Regions from separate parts of the Homo sapiens genome. Here region 1 is linked to region 2. Evidence: fine-mapped expression QTL. A gene starts in region 2. The other region holds a variant in brackets. All regions are shown on one strand. Distances are between the middles of the regions.

The links. PIP is the estimated chance that this variant, and not a neighbour inherited with it, causes the effect. A credible set is the group of variants that fine-mapping cannot tell apart.
Region 1: its variant is the best candidate, but not a certain one, in a credible set for the expression of NECTIN4 in skin (TwinsUK, PIP 0.75).

What each region holds. Positions count from the first base shown.
Region 1 is chr1:160,688,627-160,698,646 of GRCh38, reverse strand. The region is part of intron 1 of CD48 (CD48 molecule); the gene reads left to right. LOC124904439 (endogenous retrovirus group K member 18 Env polyprotein) reads right to left here. Exons shown (of 1, transcript XM_047438433.1): 1 at 1-10,020. The coding sequence starts at 1,319. Among named protein-coding and RNA genes, the nearest start is that of CD48, 18 kb to the left of the region's middle. The variant C/T (reference allele first, on the strand shown) is at 5,520.
Region 2 is chr1:161,084,622-161,094,432 of GRCh38, reverse strand. NECTIN4 (nectin cell adhesion molecule 4) reads left to right here and starts at 4,875. Exons shown (of 9, transcript NM_030916.3): 1 at 4,875-5,215. The coding sequence starts at 5,137. It overlaps NECTIN4-AS1 (NECTIN4 antisense RNA 1), which reads right to left. Exons shown (of 4, transcript NR_183641.1): 2 at 9,621-9,781; 3 at 9,405-9,496; 4 at 3,701-7,530. RefSeq lists an enhancer at 1,558-1,657.

The sequences.
Region 1 (10,020 bases), 400 kb after region 2:
CACTGTAACTGGAAATGATGTTCTAAGGTCATGAGCCTGTCTCCCATCCAAATGACAGTTTGTCTAAGATCATTAATTTGACTTGCCAATTTTTGATCAATACTAGATTGTGAATTCCACAATCTTGTAGAATTCTTTTGCCAATAATTAACAAAGTTTACTGACTGAACAGAAGAGTGCAATGCAACTCCTGCCACAGCAGCCGTAGCTGTGACTGCAATTAATCCCATAATCACTGCAATTAAAGTAAAAATGAATCTTTTGGATCTATTTAAAATGCCTTTTAATATTTCAGTCAAAATATGGATGGATGGCGAGGCCTCCCACGGTCGGTCCGTGGACACAGGGATCCACATGCCTTCTCTTGCTCTCACCAGCAGAATACGGTGCTGCCAATTAAAAGTTGAATCAATGCAAGTAAACAATCTACAATTTTCACAGGTTATAGTTTGGGAGGCTGGTTTAATAACTATATTTCCTACAACTAGCATATAAGGGGGCTTTATGCAACTTTGTAAAGGAACCGTTAGAATGGAATTTAGGTCGATAGTATAAAATGGCTTACGATATCTTGTTTCTAAAGTTTGATTTCCAGACCAAATTCTAATGTGGTGTGAGGCCACAGTAAGCCTCCACAATTCTGGATGTTCAGGACCAGAAACAGGACTTATTATTTTTGGTCTTGGGGTAGAGATTCCTTTTTCTTCCCATTCCCAAAGGTAGAAAGACTGTAATTTTTTATGCTTATGTTTGTCTAGACTTTCTGTTAAGTCGCTATCAACAGCTGGACTCACTTGTGCACTTGGACACGACTGAGTTTGTCCTGAGCAATTGTGGTAGAATTGACCTCGAGGTGCCCAATCTATAATAGTTTCGAATTCATTGTTTTGTAATATCACCACACTATTGGCCACACATTCTTCCCAAACTAAAACTTCTGTATTCTTTGATCCTTTAGGAATTTCCTTGGGGCAAGTTTTCCCTTTAGGTCTAAATTTTAATGATCTTTGATAAGAAAAGTCTTGTAAATAATTTACCCGTGGCCTGAGTGACATCCCGCTTACCATGTGATAAGTGAATCTACTGTTAGGACTGACAGTAGGTACTTCTACCAACCAATTTTGGACTGCAGGCATTAAACATCCTGGTGCTCTCCCTAGGCAAATAGGAGGATAATGATACCCAATGGAAATATTTATCATCATCCCTTCTTCCTCAGGTTTGGCAGGGCAGCGATCATCTGTGGGGCCAGGTACCCATACACTATCATTAACATATACTTCTATAGGATTATCCATCCATGTGACTGGTGTTACCATCTCCGTGGAGGCGCTTTTCTTTGCATCTCTGATGGGTTCATTGTAGAACTTCAAATGTCTAGTGGGTATCCAAACAGGAAGCTGATTTTCTCCTGGTGAAACACAAGCAAAACCTCTCCCCCACGTTATCAGCTTCCCTATTTCCCATGTCTTATTTTAATTATCTTTCCACTAAATTAGTTTTCCTTCATGTGGGCTGTTCTTTTTACCAGTAAGATGTTCTGCAGAAGTAGTAGTCTGATTTCTATAAATGTTTAAAAAATTTAAAGTATAGAGTGCTAGATTAAGTTGCATCTGAGGAGTGGTACACTCCTTACTGTCTCCCCCTTCTTTTTGTTTAACTAATTGAGTTTTGAGTGTTCTATTAGTTCTTTCAACTATGGCCTGTCCTTGGGAATTATAAGGAATTCCTGTTGTATGTGAAATTTTCCACTGACTTAAGAATTTTTGGAAAGCTTTACTACAATATCCTGGTCCATTGTCAGTTTTGATTTTTTCTGGAACTCCCATTACAGCAAAACAAGACAATAAATGTTTTTTAACATGGGAAGTACTTTCTCCTGTTTGGCAAGTTGCCCACATGAAATGTGAATAAGTATCAACTGTTACATGACATATGATAATCTTCCAAATGAAGGTACATGCGTGACATCCATTTGCCATAATGCATTAGGACACAGACCTCTGGGTTAACTCCTGCCTCTTGAGTGGGCAGGTCTAAGACTTGACACTGGGTGCAATGTTGTACAATATCTTTTGCCTGTTTCTATGTGACATCAAATTTGTTTTTTAATCCTGCTGCATTTACATGAGTCAAAGCATGAAGTTCTTGTGCTTTTATGAATGCAGATGATACCAGTAAGTCAGCTTGTTCATTTGCTTTAGTCAAAGGCCCTGGTAAATTAGTGTGTGCTCGAATATGAGTAATATAAAATGGGAAGTTTCTTTTTCTTACAGTTTGTTGTAATAAATTGAATAGCTGGTTTAACTGATCGTCCATGCTATATTTAATTAGAGCTGTCTCAACATCCCTTGTAGCCTGTACTACATATGCAGAATCTGATATAATATTGATAGGTTGATCAAAATCTTGTAACACTGTAATGACTGCAACCAACTCTGCTCTTTGAGCCGATTGATATGGAGTTTTGATTACTCGTTCTTTTGGCCCTGTGTAAGCCACTTTTCCATTGCTGGAACCATCAGTAAATACTGTTAGAGCATTTTCTAAAGGTTCACATCTGGTAATTTTAGGTAGAATCCAAGTAGTCAATTTTAAGAACTGGAAGATTTTTGTTTTTGGGTAATGATTATCAATAATTCCCACAAAATTAGCAAGACCAATCTGCCATGCACCAGAATTGATAAAGGCTTGTCTAACTTGTTCCTTGGTTAAAGGGACAACTATTTTGTCTGGGTCATTTCCACATAATTTTATTATTCGTAATCTTGTCGGACCAATTAAAGTAGCTATTTGATCCAAGTACAATGTAAAAGTCTTAACTGTACTGTGAGGAAGGAATGACCACTCCACAAGATCAGTATTTTGAATAATGATGCCTGTTGGAGAATGTGCAGTGGCAAAAATCAAAAGTTGGAGTGGGGCTAAGGGATCTATTCTATTTATTTGCGCTGACTGAATTTTTTCTTCCACTAATTTAATTTCTTTTGTTGCCTCTGGGGTTAACATTCTTTTACTATTTAAGTCTGAGTCTCCTCTTAAGATAGAGAACAAATTTGACATGGCATAAGTAGGAATGCCTAGAGTTGGCCGAATCCAATTAATATCTCCCAGCAATTTTTGAAAATCATTTAGTGTTTTTAATGTGTCTTTTCTTATTTCTATTTTTTGTGGCTTAATTTTTCTATTTTCTATCTGCATCCCTAAATAATGAAAAGGAGTAGAGGTTTGGATCTTATCAGATGCTATTGCCAGTCCTGCATTGGCAACCTCTGCTTGCAGAAATGTATAACAGTCAATTAATTTATCTTTCGTTTCTGCAGCACATAAAATATCATCAAAATAATGAATAATATAACAGTCTGAAAACTTGTCTCTAACTGGTTGAAGAGCTCGACCTACAAAAGTCTGACAAATAGTTGGACTATTAAGCATTCCCTGAGGTAACACTTTCCACTGAAACCTGGTGGCTGGTTCTTTATTATTTATGGCTGGTATAGTAAAGGCAAATTTTTCACAATCCTGCTCTGCCAGAGGGATGGTAAAAAAGCAGTCCTTTAGATCAATTATAATTAAAGGCCAATCTTTTGGGATCATGGCTGGAGAGGGCAACCCAGGTTGGAGAGGCCCCATGGGTTGAATTACGGCATTTACAGCCCTTAAGTCAGTTAACATACGCCATTTGCTGGATTTCTTCTGAATTACAAACACAGGAGAATTCCAAGGCGAGAATGAAGGCTCAATATGTCCCTTTTCTAACTGTTCATTTGCTAATAAATGTAAAGCCTCCAGTTTTTGTTTTGGTAGCGGCCACTGATTTACCCACACCAGTTTTTCTGTTTTCCAAGTTAACGGTATGGGTTTAGGAGGCTCTACAGTGGTCACCCCTAAAAAGGATACCCTGTTCCTTCTCTTCCGTGATTTATTTTAGCCTCAATTGGAACTTTAATGCCATCTTCATTTTTTCCTAGTCCCTTTCCTGGTATATATCCCATCTTGGTCATGATTTTTTGACTCATGGGGCTATATAATGTAGCGGTCATGGTGATTTCCGCACCCCATTGTTGTAACAAATCTCGACCCCACAGATTAAGAGGAATTGAAGTGATCATTGGCTGAACAGTACTTTCTTGATTATGTGGCCCTAAGCAATGTAAAATCTCAGTACTCTGATACACTTCTGAGGCTGTGACTATGCCGACAAGTCCTGTAACAGTCTTTTGTTTAGGCCAATTTTTTGGCCACTGATTTAAAGCAATGATAGAGACATCTGCTCCAGTGTCTACCAATCCTTCAAGCTGTTTTCCTTGAATAACGGCCTTACACACAGGTCTGTTCTCTGAGACCTGACTTGCCCAATATGCAGCCTTTCCTGTCGGATCAGTGCTTCCAAACCCTCCTGTTCTTTTTATTTCACTATTTCCAACCTTAATATATGGCAGGAGTAATAATCGAGCAATCCTGTCTCCTGGACTGGCACTCCAAGGAATTGAAGAGCTAATAACCAATTGAATTTCACCTTTATAGTCTGAATCAACCACACCAGTATGAATTTGAACTCCTTTTAGATTTAGACGTGATCTTCCCAAGATTAGTCCTACAGTCTCCTCAGGCAGCGGGCCATATACTCCTGTGGGGATTTTTTGTGGGGGCTCCCCTGGAAGCAGAGAGACTGCTTGTATAGTACATAAATCTACTGCTGCACTGCCACTTGTGGCGGGGGACAATTGTTGTACTGTGGTAACTGGCTTATTCCCTGAGGTACTTGGGACAGTGGGGGTTGTTGTCCCTGAAAACCCTGAGGAACAAAGGGCTGAATTGGGAATGCCCCAGTTTGTTGCAGGGCCTGAGGCTGGCCCCTTTGCTAGTTTCCCGACAATGGTTGCCCATTTTTATCAAATTTGGAACGACATTGACTAGCCCTTTTGGTAGTTTCCCGACAATGATTGCCCATTTTTATCAAATTTAGAATGACATTGACTAGCCCAATGTTTTCCTTTTTTACATCTTGGACATAAGTCAGGTGGCTCTCTACCTGTTGTTGTAGTAGCTTGAATAGTTATATTCTGTTTATTTAAGACTGGGCAATTCTTTTTTAAATGACCAATTTGACCACAATTATAACATTTTCCTCCAAATGTTCTAACTTGTCCTCCTAAAACAACTCCTGTTATTGCTTGGGCCATAAGCATAGCTTTATGCGTAGCTCCTCCAATTCCATCACGGGCTTTTACATACTCTGAGATTACATCTGATCCTGCGGGAACCTTTCCTTTTAATGGCTTAATGGCTGATTGACACTCAGGATTGGCGTTTTCGTATGCCATCAACTCCACTATGACCTTACGGGCTTTTTCACTGGCAATTGACTTTTGAGCAACATCTTGGAGCCTTGCCACAAAATCAGGGTAGGGCTCTTTTGAACCTTGTCTTACTGTATTAAATGTGGAGCAGGCGCTTCCTGGGTCTTGGATTTTTTCCCAGGCTCTAAGGCAGATAGCTCTAACTTGCTCAATGGC[C/T]TCATTTTGCATTAATGCTTGTTGACTAATAGTGCTCCAATTTTGACCTGTTCCTAATAGTTGATCTGCATCTATGTTAACTGGAGGATTGGCAGCCCTATTTCTTCGGACCTGTTCTTGTGCCCCATCAATTCACCAAGTCTTAAATTGTAAAAATTGAGAGGGTGAGAGAGATGATTTTGCCAGAATCTCCCAATCATAAGGAATGAGTCTATGTCCATGAGCAATGGAATCTAATAATGTCCTCATATAAGGGGAGTTGGGTCCATACTGTTTTACTCCCTCTTTCATATCTTTTAGCATTTTTATCTAAAAAGACTTGTATCTGGCCTCAACTGTGAGAGGCTCTCCCTCTTGGGCTCCTTCTCCAGGTGGCATCGGTTCTAACGTTACTGGGAATTGCCACGCCTCAGTATCTCCTTCCTTTCTTGACTTCTCAATAATTTCATGTAATTCACTACCCTGTCTACTAGGTGGTGCCATAGGATTGTCTCCTAGTGGGCGGCTGAGGGTATGGCTCCCTGCCCTGTGGTGCTGGGGGCATTCCTAGATATCCATACTGACTTTCTGGGGGTGGCCGATACTGAAGTTCGGCCGGTGGCCAGTATTGATAAGCTACTGGCAGTTGGGTCTTATTTTCTCTAACCTGCGCTTGAGGTTGTAATGTTACGGTCACCTGACCTGCTGAAAGAGGACTTGGCCCTCGTGGTTTAGACTCTAATGGCCCCACTAATTCTGGACCTTTTCCTTCTAATTTTAATGTTTCAGGATATATCACCTCCTGTAATTGATTATAGTCAACATTTTGCGTTGACTGAGCCATTAACGGCTCTGCTACATATTCGCAATGTAAAGTTTCCGTTTCCTTCTGGGATTTTTTCCTTGTCTTTTCATTACAATCTATTATACAGCTTCCAGGGGCATCAGAAACTGAAACGCTATCTTCTGTTTGAAATGGTTCTAAAGCTGCTTTAATAATGGGCCAATCATTCCATACTGTAAGTGGAATGATATTACCCTTCCTACCTGCTTGTTTTAGTTCCTTACCAATTCTTTTCCAATCTTCTAGATCTAAATTTCCTTGTTCTGGAAACCATGGGCAAAATTGTTCTGTTGTTTGAAATAGCTTGATTAGATTTTTGGTGGATACTCTAACTCCCCCTCTTTTTAAAAGAATTTTAATGAAGCTAAGATAAGAGGCATATTTACTTTTAGTTTTAGTTTGCCCCATTGTCACCCTAGCTTCTTCCGAGTGCACAAGCTTACCGTAAGGCTGACTGTAGATGTACTCGGGATCTCTTGTCGACTTGTCCTCAATGACCACGCTCGAGTGTACCTTCACCCCAGAGAAAAGCCTCCACGTTGGGCACCAGATGAAGGGGTGGGTTGCCCCTCCACACCTGTGGGTGTTTCTCGTAAGGTGCAATGAGAGACTTGGAAAAGAAAAAGACACAGAGACAAAGTATAGAGAAAGAAATAAGGGGGCCCGGGGAACCAACGTTCAGCATATGGAGGATCCCACCAGCCTCTGAGTCCCCTTAGTATTTATTGATCATTCGTGGGTGTTTCTCCGAGAGGGAGATGTGTCAGGGTCACAAGACAATAGTGGGGAGAGGGTGAGCAGACAAACACGTGAACAAAGGTCTTTGCATCATAGACAAGGTAAAGGATTAAATGCTGTGCTTTTAGATATGCATACACATAAACATCTCAATGCTTTACAAAGCAGTATTGCTGCCTGCATGTCCCACCTCCAGCCCTAAGGTGGTTTCTCCCTATCTCAGTAGGTGGAACGTACAATCGGGTTTTATACCGAGACATTCCATTGCCCAGGGATGGGCGGGAAACAGATGCCTTCCTCTTGTCTCAACTGCAAGAGACATGCTTTCCTCTTATACTAATCCTCCTCAGCACAGACCCTTTACGGGTGTCGGGCTGGGGGACGGTCAGGTCTTTCCCTTCCCACGAGGCCATATTTCAGACTATCACATGGGGAGAAACCTTGGACAATACCTGGCTTTCCTAGGCAGAGGCCCCTGCAGGCTTCCGCAGTTTTTGTGTCCCTGGGTACTTGAGATTAGGGAGTGGTGATGACTCTTAATGAGCATGCTGCCTTCAAGCATCTGTTTAACAAAGCACATCTTGCACCGCCCTTAATCCATTTAACCCTGAGTTTGACACAGCACATGTTTCAGAGAGCACGGGGTTGGGGGTAAGGTCATAGATTAACAGCATCTCAAGGCAGAATAATTTTTCTTAGTACAGAACAAAATGGAGTCTCCTATGTCTACTTCTTTCTATACAGACACAGTAACAATCTGACCTCTCTTGCTTTTCCCCACAGTCTCAGATTCCGCTTATGTTGTACATGCCACTAAAAATATAGAAACTGCTACTATCAAACATATTGATAATTCTGAATTGGCTTCTTTATTTTCAAGGTTACAACAGGTGGTTCACCAGTGTAGACACCCTTCCTATATTACACATATTAGGTCTCATACCACTTTACCAGGACCCATGTCTGCTGGTAACCATGAAGTTGACTGTTTGGTGTCTTTAATGACCCAAGAAGCTCAGGAGTTCCATAATCTCACTCATGTCAATGCCACTGGCTTAAAAGATAAATTTGCTCTTACCTAGAAACAGGCTAAGTTTATTGTTCACAGCTGCCCTCAGTGCCAGGTCTTCGTACTTCCAAATCAGGAACCTGGTGTTAAGCCTAGAGGCCTAACTCCTAATGCTTGATGGCAAATGGATGTGACTCATGTTAGCTCCTTTGGCAGACTGTCATATGTGCATGTCTCAGTAGATACCTTCTCAGGTTTTATCTGGGCTACTTGACAAACAGGGGAAGGCACGGCCCATTTTTAAAAACATCTGTATTCTTGCTTTGCAGTTATGGGGCTTCCATATCAAATAAAGACAGACAATGCCCCTGGATATGTTAGTAAGGCTTTTGATTCATTTATACAACAGTAAGGAATTTCCCATATTACTAGAATCCCTTACAATCCTCAAGGACAGGCTGTGGTGGAACAGGCCAATCGCACTTTAAAAACCCAATTGTCCAAACAGTCTGAACAACCAAAACATGATTTAACTACTCCACACTCCCAATTACATTTGGCATTATTTACTTTAAATTTTTTAAATGTTCCTAAAGATAATACTGTAACTGCAGCCAAACGCCATTATACAGGCAAAAAATTTTCCATAAACGAAGGCAAGTCAGTGTTATGGAAAAACTCTCAAACCAATACCTAGGAACCTGGCACAATTATAACGTAGGGAAGAGGATATGCTTGTGTTTCACCAGGAGATCATCAATCCCATGTCTAGGTACCCACCAGAAGACTCAAGCTTCAGGTGAATACTGACAACTAAAACCACAGACAAAAAACATCTGTGTCAGAGATTGCCTTCAGACGTGGTGAGATCTCTGCTGACTCCTCAGAAACAGGCACACCAAATCACAATAGGTGTAAATCAATCCTCCCTGATGGCAGTGGAGACCCATCTAACTAATCCCACTTCTCCTGATTACTTTTCTTTTTCTCCTTACAAACCTAAAAATCTCACCATTTCTATTAGCCTGAAAATAACATCCCTCTGTTCTTCTCTTCCTCCTTCAGCACTCAATCTCACTTACACTAGGTTTTATTTAATGATTCTCCTCCTTATACTTTCTGTCTCACCAGTTTCCTCTCACACTGATTTACCTGCTACACATAATTATTCTTATTAGGCTTATGTGCCTTTTCCTCCACTTATTCGACCTCTCACCTAGATAGATGCTCCTGCAGAAATCTACACTAATGATAGTGTGTAGATGCCTAGAGCCACAGATGACCGTTGCCCTGCTCAACCAGGAGAAGAAGGCACTGCATTTAATGTTACCATAGATTATAAATACCCCCCTCTGTGCCTCGGACATGCACCTGGTTGCATCCACCTAGAAACTCAATTCTAGGCTGCTTATCTTCCGAAAACATCAGCTACAGATAAAATAGGACATTTAGTCTCTGGCCTCTCCCTTTCTCCTTTAAAACAAATGAAAGGAGAAGTAATGGGAGATACCCCATACTTTCAATATAAACCTGCAGGAAAACCATGCCCTAAAAATTTTGAGGGCCCATCTAAAACTTTAATTTAGGATGATTGTGTTAACTCACATGCAGTAATATTAAAAAATGACTCATATGGTTTAGTAATAGACTGGGCACCAAAGGGCTATTTAAAAAATAATTGCTCCTCTAGTGGAAGGGAATTCCTGGAGGCTAATTATTTTATTTCTTATCAGGAGAACGAGAATCATCATTCTACTTTGCATAGGAGGATCAGCTCATTCTTTCCCTTAAAATGGGAAGATAAAGGCATTACCCGCCCCCCAAGCCTCGTATGATACTCCCCATTCTGAGCCCAGAACACCCAGAACTTTGGAAATTGGCTATTGCCATGTCTGGACTGCGAGTATGGGAAGGGAAAACTATTTTGACTG
Region 2 (9,811 bases):
AGCCCAGCTAATTTTTTGAGTTTTTAGTAGAGACGGGGTTTCACCATGTTGGCCAGGATGGTCTCGATCTCTTGACCTCATGATCCGCCCACCTCAGCCTCCCAAAGTGCTGGGATTACAGGTGTGAGCCACCATGCCCAACCCAACTTATAATTTTTAAACTACAGTGATGCAAAAATGATAGCGTGTTCGGTAGGACCCATACTTGAATTTTAAATTTTGATATTTTCTAGGGCTAGCGACTGGTATATTAAATGCATTTTCAACTTATATGTTCAGTTTGCAATGGGCTTATCAGGACATAACCCCATCATAAAAGTCAAGGAGCATTTGTATATTTTTCTGTCTTTAAGTTTCCATTTTTCTCACTGTGCCTTGAGATCTGTCTCTCACTGTTTCGACTTTTGTGTTTTTCTCTCTGGGTTACTGCCCTTTTTTTCCTGCTGACCAGAGCCAGCCATCTGACTTTCCTGCAAGGAGCTTTAGAACTTTCCAGAAGTGGCCAGACTTCTTCCCTTTGGCTGCTTTCTAGAACTATAGCACCAGTTTGGGGTCCCCGGGCACAGTCATAAGGTCTCAATTTTTGATGAAGACCTGAGTGAGCTTCAATACATAGGGCCTTTTCAGGGAGTAGAATTTCCCCACAGTGGGGTCTTAGTGTCAAAATAAAGATATTTGTCCCTTAACCCATACTGTGGTCCTGGATTTCATGGTAGTGTGTTCATGGAAACTTGCGAAGTTCATGGGTTGAGAGCAAGGAGGATGGGGCTCTGCACACAACTGGACCTACCGAGAAACGGGACCTGAACATGTCTTGCATTTAGCTGCCTCCTCCCCTGGATGGCACACTCCAGCTTTAGGGCCCTCGAGGAACAAGCAAATTCAGCCCCCTGATCTCCAAGGGTTGTTAGGCAACCAAGAAATGTGGTTATCATTAAAGGATGGGGCTGGGGGCTGGGTATTGGGGAATCGGTGGGCCTGCAGGATAGGCAAAGAACAACATAGCACATGGCAATGTTTTGATGTAATTTTCTAGAAAACAGGAGGCCACCATCCTAATATTGAGCATAGTGAAGTTCCATCAGGAGGGGAGTAAAGGTGTTTTCTAGGGGAAGAAAAGCTGCTGGAGCCCCTGTGTTCTGTATGGGGGTATGCCCATACCTCCCGGGATGGAGCAGGGGTGATCCTAGGGAGGAGCAGGAGGAGTGACTTTGAAGCCTTGGTCCTGGGGGGTGAGATCAAGGCCCATATTGGTAATCTTTCACCACGTCATCAGCTCCCCAACACCTTTCTGTACAAACTGCGGAAAGTTTGCAATGAGCAGATCAGGAATAGCTTATCACAGAGACAAAGCTGTACAGAAATGGATCACAAATATTTTATCCACTCTCATGCTTCCAACTAGTTCCACTCTGATTTATTTTTCACCCTCCTCTCTCCCTAAGCACAAGGGACTCTCCCCCAGCCTCTGACTCTTCTCTGACCTGGGACTTCACTGCAGGCAGACAGGATATTACTCACCAAGGAGCTCTCTCATCTACTCCTACCCCCAACTCATCCTCCTGCACCCCACTCTCACTCCCACCCCTTCCAACCTGGGCCCACTCCTTCCCTCCCCCACTCAATCTGACCCTCACTCTCACTCTTCTTCTCCCCCACACCACCCCACCCATCCTTGTCCCTCTCTGACTCACCTCAAGTCCCATTGACACAAACAAAAATTTCAGCACAACCCACTCCAACCGGTTTGGCTGAGGCGTGCAGCCTGTCATGGGGACAGAGACAGGTATAAGCGGATGCTTGGATGCATGCAGATCATGAAGAACATCCGCTGCTGTGCATACAGAGACAGTCCCACATATGTGCATAGCATGTATGTGTACAGAGATACGTAGGGAACACATGATGGTGGGATATAGCATGTTACAGTTGTTTCTGTGTCTGCCTCTCCTGATTGAAGGCTCCTTGAGGGCAGGGACTATGTGTTATGTGTCTCGGTCTCCTCCCTTGAGCCTGACACATAGTGGCACTCATTTAATGTCTGTTGAAGGAATGCATGGGTGCAGGCGCGCACGCAGCAATGTCACTCAGACAAACACACATGATAAAGACACTATCATGGCTTGAATTGTTCTCATTCTTAGCGACCACAATGTGGGTAGGAGGAGGGTAGGAGTGAGGCATGTGGGGAATGGGAATTCAATATGGAAGGGAGAACCGAACCAGGATACCAGGCATTGGTCTTGAAAATCTTCCTCATCCAATATTTCCTTCCAGTCTCAATCCTAGAATATGCCTTCCCCAGCCTTCATCCTAGGAGAGGGTAGGAAAGGCCTAAGTTTGAGGGCATATTCTCCAAAAGCATGGCTCTTGTGAGACATACAGGGCTGAGGGGAAGGAGGGGACAGAGGGACTTGAGATAGGTATTTGTGAAATGAGGAGAGAGATCCCTAACTCTGTCAAAGGCCTGGAGTGGGCTGCTGGACTCTAGTGCTCCCTCTCAGGCCCTGTGGTGCCCTTAGCCTACTTCAAGGCTGCATCATACCCATGAAAAAATGAGTATAGCCATACCCTAACTCCACCTCTGGACAGTTCTGCCTCCTTTCCATGCTCCGTATGGCTAGAGTTCAGGGTGAGTGATTAAGGGGCCCAACCAGGGGTTCAGAGACATCCTGACTGGTAGCACTTTCACGGGGTATACTGTGAATGGATAGGCTGAAGGAGATTGGATATCCATCTTGTGAACTAACTGCTTTTCCACTCCTGTGCCTCAGTTTCTCCTGTGGCTTCCTGTACCTGGAGGGGTGAATCCGTGGGAAGGAAAGCAGCTCCTCCGAAAGCATGCGATAGGATCCAAGGTGTGATAATTATAATTATAACACAGGATGCTCCCCCTCCCATTCCCGCTGGCCCTACTCCACCCCTGCCACAGAGGATCTCAAAGCAGCATCTGGGTGGGGCTGTTCCCCTGGCACAGGTGGGGACCTGAAAAAGAGAAGGGGTTGGAGGTGGAGAGAAACTGGGGAATTCTGGCAACCGGCCTGGCCTTTAAGGGCCTCTGACCTGCAGGAAATAGCCCCTGAAGAAGAGGTCACTGCCGTGGTCATTTGGCATCTAGAGCCAGAGTTGGGGTCATAGTCCAGTGACAGGAGTAAAGTCCAGGTCACAACCCTAGTTCAGGATAGTAACTCACAGCCAGTCGGGATCTCTGCTTTACTGATCCGACTTCACCATCCTTTTCATCCGGACAACTCATTTATTCAGAAATTCATGGCTTCACCAAAATGTAGTCAGTTCCCATGAAATGCTGTGGCCTGTCCTAGCATGGAAGACTGAGACAAGATTATAAAACAAGCCCAACTTTCAAGGAGTTCACAGGCTACAACTCTTGTCCTGTCCCGCAATTTAATACATTTACTGAATTCCTGGCACACAGCAGGCCTCAATCGATGTTTTTTTGACTTGAAGCTTACAATTTAGTTAAGGAGATAAGATGTGCACAAATTATGAGCACATAAGCTATAATAAAAGGACTAGCAAAGGCTGAGGAAGAATAGAAGAAAGATTAATTTGGGGTGGGAGGAGCAGAGAAGGCTTCACGAAGATGTGGCATTTGAGGTCAGCTTTGAAAGATGAATAAGAGTTTGACAGGTAGAGTTGGTGGGGATGGTGGTGGTAGAAAATCTACACAGAACAACTCTTCCTTATGGCTTCTTTATTCCTCCTTTCTGCCTTCTCCAGATGGAAGGGTCCTATGGCAAAACTTTAACCTATATTTTTTTCTTCTCCCACGTCTATCTCTGTATTTACCTGGTTTTTGTATTAGCCCTAGACTGCAAGTGATGTTGTCCCTCCCGTTCACTAAATTTTCAGTGGGCTCAGAATATGCCCTCTTCCTCTGGCTATCCCAGGGAGGCCAGGAAGGTTTTGTGTAATTTGGCGGTCACTTTTTATGCATTCAGAATGGAAACACATGGTCTGACAAGGATGTACTTATAGGAATACAGGGCTAGAGTACTTGAAATTAAGATTCTCCTTGCAAAGTCCAGACATGTGGTCTTGTCCAATGACCTTGGAGTAAACTGGGTAAAATGGCCATGGAGAGGGTAGAGAGGAACCTCTCTCCATTCAAGTTGTGCTGCTGCGCTTTTGGGACTCCTGGCCAGGTAACAAGGTGTTGAAGCTGAGAGAGGGCCCTGATAGGGAAACCAGGAACCCCTACGGCTAATTCCTTGGCCACTTCCTTGGCCTCTTATATATGGAGGTGGAGTTAGAGGAGTTACGTAAGTTCTTTCTCAGGGGTCTTTGAACTACTTCCCTACTTCAGGGATAGAGGTGTCTGAGCAAACCATGAGACTAAGTTGTGTGTCCTCTGGCAAGTCCCTCCCCTTCTCTGGGCCTTGGTTTTCTCTTCTGAAGAATGAAGTATACAGCGCAGCACTGACAGACTCCTTCCTCCTCAGTTCTGGCCTTCTCCGATTCTGTGGCTCCAAAGCTGAGACCCTCCAGGAGATCCGGGAACTTGTCAAGGCCCCCAGGAGGTACCAAGGCTAGCTGGGGTGTGGGACGCTTGGGTTCCTTTCTACCCACAAGGGCCTTGCCCCTTTCATCCTGGCCTGGCCTGGTGCCCTGGGCCTCCCTTAGTCCCCACCCTTGCCTCTCCCTTCATAGCCCCTTCCACATACTCGCAGGTAAAGCCTGGAGCTGAGGATGGGACCCCACCGCCCCCACCCAGGTCCTTCCCTCCTTCCCTCCCTCCCTGGCGCCTATTAGCTAGCCCAGGCCATGGGGGCGGTGGCTGCTGAGTCTCCGTGCCAGGCCCAGCCCCCAGAGACGCACCTGTTCTGACCTGCTGAGCAGGTTCCCAGGTTTCTGCCGTCGTTGTTGGCCACAGCGTGGGAAGCAGCTCTGGGGGAGCTCGGAGCTCCCGATCACGGCTTCTTGGGGGTAGCTACGGCTGGGTGTGTAGAACGGGGCCGGGGCTGGGGCTGGGTCCCCTAGTGGAGACCCAAGTGCGAGAGGCAAGAACTCTGCAGCTTCCTGCCTTCTGGGTCAGTTCCTTATTCAAGTCTGCAGCCGGCTCCCAGGGAGATCTCGGTGGAACTTCAGAAACGCTGGGCAGTCTGCCTTTCAACCATGCCCCTGTCCCTGGGAGCCGAGATGTGGGGGCCTGAGGCCTGGCTGCTGCTGCTGCTACTGCTGGCATCATTTACAGGTAGGACTTGCCTGAACCATCAGGACACTTGCTTCTGAGCCCAACCTGGCACTGACACACATGCACAAACACATAGACACACACGCACGCACACACATATCCTCCTTTCTTTGACTCTGAACTGAGGATCCAGTCTCTCCTGCCCCCAGCTTCCAGCAGTGCCCCCAGAAAAGCCAGTATAGCCCTCCCCCTTCTTGTTTCCTCCCAGCCCCCAGGCCAGGTCACTATGTCTGGGATCCCTGACACCTCTGCCAAAGCCTTGCCTAGGCCTGAGCTGTCTTGGGGAATAGACGTGGTGACCCAGTGTAGATGGGCAGGCAGGTGGGACTTGTGAGGATCCTGTTCACCCCAGGGTTTCCTAGAGGTGCCTTGGCCTACCCCCTGGGCTCTGGAACGGCTGCCTGGAACTGGGGCTGACTCAGAGCTCAGCTGGTTTCTGCAGTCATCAGGGTGCAGGAAGCCTGATGCCCAGAGAGTGGATGGGGGATTTCTATTTCCTTCTTTTCTCTCCATGATGTTCTAGAGCACCAGGACTGGGGCACCTGTTGGGGACTATAGGAGAGCTGAGAATGCCCGTCACTCTGACCCCTTCCTTTCCCTGGGCACAATATTAGGTGCCAGGGTGGTAATAAGGGGGTTTAGATGGATGGGGGTCTAAGGAAGGGAACCTTCTAGATAGGGTGTGGTCCCCATTTGTTCATCTCCTGTTCCCCCATTTTCTTAACTAGATGCCTTGTATTACTTCTCACCTCCTGTCTGTCTAATGCATATAGAGCAAATATGAATTATAGGAATGTATAATCTTCAGAGTAGAGGAGAGTGTGTGTGCGTGTGTGTGCACAGTGAGACCTCAGTGGGATTCCATAGGGTGTTCCTAGGGTAATGAGTAACAGAAATATTTCTCCTTCAAAAGATAGGGCCTGATCTGGACAGGACAGTTTGATTCTCAGGCCCAGGAGCAGTAGCAAGGGAGCCTCTGTTGCCCAGCAAGATCTGGCAGTGATTCCCCTACCTCCATCTCCAGCCAAAGCTTTGAGGAGGGAAATAAGGCCTAGATGTGTGGATTGGTGGAGGTATGGGCTGCTCCAACTCTGATTTTATTATAGGTCATGGGCCCAGCCTCCAGTCGTAGGATACTGAGCTCCTACCCCTGCCATCCCCTCACAGTCCCCTACCACCTGTGTTTTAATTCCCATCTTCCAGATAATCCTTCTCACTTGTTTAGGCCAAAAAGGTGGAGCCTAGTTGCTGGAGTTGGGGAACCAGCAGTCACTTTCCTGTGGGATCTACCCACACTTAAAGAGTGGAGTCATGCCATCTCAGGACTTGGAAGAGATCAAAGAGATCACCACTCCAACTCTCTCATTTTACAGATGAAAAAACTGAGAGAGATAGGCAAGTGAGATCTGCAAGATTACTCAACGTTAGGAGTAGACACACACGCACACACACAAACATCTCTTTCCTATGACTCTGAACTGAGGAGCCAATCTCTCTCTCCCACCCCCAGCTTCCAGCAGTACCCCCAGAAGAGCCAGTGTAGCCCTTCCCTTTCATGTTCCCTCCCAGCCCCCAGGCCCGGTCACTATGGCTGGAATCCCTGATTACCTCTGCTCAGTGTTAGAAGCATAACCAGGGTTAGTGTCTTGGTGTTCTCACTCTAAGTTCATTGAAGAATAGTACATTTGAGTGCACACTGGGTACAACCTGGATACTAGATGCTGGAGATGCAATGGTGACTGCATCACATGGTTCTTGCCTTTCTTTTCCATGATGGCAAAACTGTTCTTACTAAGAGAAGCCCAGGGAAGGGGACAGGAGACCCCCTTCTAGTTAGACCTCATGCAATGCCTGGCAGTAAGGGAGGAAGCCTGGCTCCAGATTGCCCCAGGAAGCTGGCACCTGGTAGGAGGCCACTCTGCTGCTGCTGCAGCAGCTACAACCTGCACAGAGCTGAGGTTGCTCTGGGGGCTGGAGGCTCCTAGCCTGAGGATCAGATGGTCCTACCTCCACTACCACCCCCATTCTGGCTCTTCTGTGTGTAGACTCTCCTTAATGGCTCCCAGGAACCTGGAATGTTTCATGTCTCTGAAAAAATCCTTGGACTGGGAAGTCAGGAGTCTTGGTCCAGATCCCGTTTCTGCTATTAATCTATTTGGTAACCTTGGGCAGCGATGAAACCAGACTTCAGTAGACCGAGAGCTAGGACCAGATGATCTCTATTGACCTTCCAGCTCTGAAATACGATGACTCTGTGATGGTCCAGGCCTGGCTGAAGTGGGGTGCTGGGGTGTTGGAAGGGTCACTGGGTCTGGCTGTGGAGATAGGAGGAGGAAAGCGTTCTGGTCGCATCTCTCAGAGGGTACCAGAGTACCTTTCCCCAGGCCTTCCTGGCCCTACTGCAAATTCACCCCCCACCCAAATCCTGGGCCATTAGAGCTCTGAGCCCCAGGGCCCTGCCCCACCCCTGACAGGGAAAGGAGCCCAGGCTTGGGAGGCGCCTCAGCACCACAGCTCTTTGTCTCTCCTTAATGGGTTGAGTTTCCGGGTGAAGTCTCCTCCCTTCTCCCTCCCCCATCTCTTGCCCTGGGGCTGAGGGACCCAAATCCACGAGACACCCCTCCCCCCATTAGGATCCTAGTCCCTAGCTCTTTGTCGGGTTCAGGAGCCCTGCAGGACCAAAGGGCAAGTGGTGCTCTGCATTCTGAGGTCTGCCTTCTGGGGGTTAGGATCAGCTTTCTGTCTGAGGTTAATTTCCTTGAAAGGGAGGGGCCCATCCTTACTTTTCTACTCCTGTTTACAGAGGGGGGCAGGCCCTTTCCTGTAGGACCTACCCAAACCCAGGGAAGCCAGCAAGGGAGGTGGTGAGAACTGGGAGAATCCCAGGGAAGCCCTGTGACCCCAGTGACCTTGTTCCCACCCTAGTGTTTAAGGAGGCCGGGCCAAGGAGAGCCTAGCTACAGAGATGAGGAGGTTAGAGTTCATGATTCCATCAGCCAGACCAGAGCCTCAGGATCTGGGGGTCCTCTAGGCAAAGTGAATGGGGATTAGCTACTTTGGGGCCCAGTGAGGAGAGAATGATTGGATGTTCTAGCCTCCAAAAACTTGCCCTTGCTCTGACCGAAGTCTAGGCAGAGAGAAGGGATGGAGGTGATGTGGGGAACGAAGTCAGAAGGGAAGGGAGTAGAGAAGCCTAGGGTCTTAATTTGGGAAGAGAATCTAAATGAGGAGGGGGCCAGGCGTGGTGGCTCACGCCTATAATCCCAGCACTTTGGGAGGCCAAGGCAGGTGAATCCCTTGAGGCCAGGAGTTTGAGACCAGCCTGGGCAACACGGCAAAATCCCGTCTCTACAAAAAATACAAAAGTTAGCCAGGCATGGTAGTATACCTGTGGTCCCAGCTACTTGGGAGGATTGCCTGAATCCAAGGAGACTGAAGTTGCAGTGAGCCATGATCGCGCCACTACACTCTAGCCTGGGTGACAGAGTGAGACTCTGTGTCAAAAAAAAAAAAAAAAAAAGAGGAGGCGAAGTTCAGAACTGGGGAGACATCTGCCATGCCTCCTAAAGGAAGGCCGTGGAGAAGGCGGCTGAGGTCACTCTTTCACTGGAACAGGCAGCCTCTGGCCTCAGGAGATTTTCTCATAGTTTTCTGGCCACCCCCACCCCCTTCCCTCTAAATCTGGTGTGTCCTGAGAGCTGGAGTTGAGGCTGTGATTTGGGATGGGGCAGAGCTGGCCATGGTGGGTGGAGGGGCAGTGTGGAGCAGGGGTTAGGATCTCAGGAGTTTGGGAGAAGCTGAATCCTGGTTCTCCCACCCACAGTGTGGCTGTTGTGGTGACTCAGCCAGGCTCAGACTCTGGCTCCGGGGGGTTTAGGGGACTTATCTGTGCTGGGAGCTGTGTCTGGGCCAGAGTGGGGCTGCCTCAAGGCCTGTCCTCCCCATTGTTCTCATCTCCCTTTGTGATTGTGTGGCCCCCCTCCCCAGACACTAATCTGTGGGTGGGCGTTTTGCCCAGGCTGGGAAGCTCTCACTAAGCTGGGGGGCTTAGTACAATGGGGGGTAAGTGAGGGAGGTGGATGAAGGCGGAGAGGGAATCTTCTGGTTTTTAAAGTTCCTTAGCACTCCAAGGCCAAGGTTATGGGGCAAAGAGTGGATGGAAAGGGGTTTGCTGGGTTGTTTGTGTCACCTGTCCTGGATGGTGAGCTTCGGTGCGTCCCTCCTAGGTCCTTTCTCACCCCAGACTCACCCACATACTCCAGCTCTCGGTGGAGATTGTTGCTGTCAGGTAAGGGGAGGCAGGAGTTAACAAAGGAGCATGAGACCCTAGACAGCCTGGACCCCTCCCCCTAGCCCCAGGCAGGATTCCCCTCACCCCCCCAAACCCACACCAGACAACCCTTACCCAGGCCTGGAGCCAGAGCTGGTTTTTCTGGTGGTGGCAGCAGCAGAGCCCTGACAGAGATTCCCAGGGAGAGGCCTCCTTGGGGGGCCAGAGCTGCTGAGGGGCCCAGGGGAGTGGCTGGGGGTAGTGGTGAGAAGGTTGGCAGTCCTTTTAGTAGGAACCTGAGGAGCAAGGGGAGAGGGAACATTTGT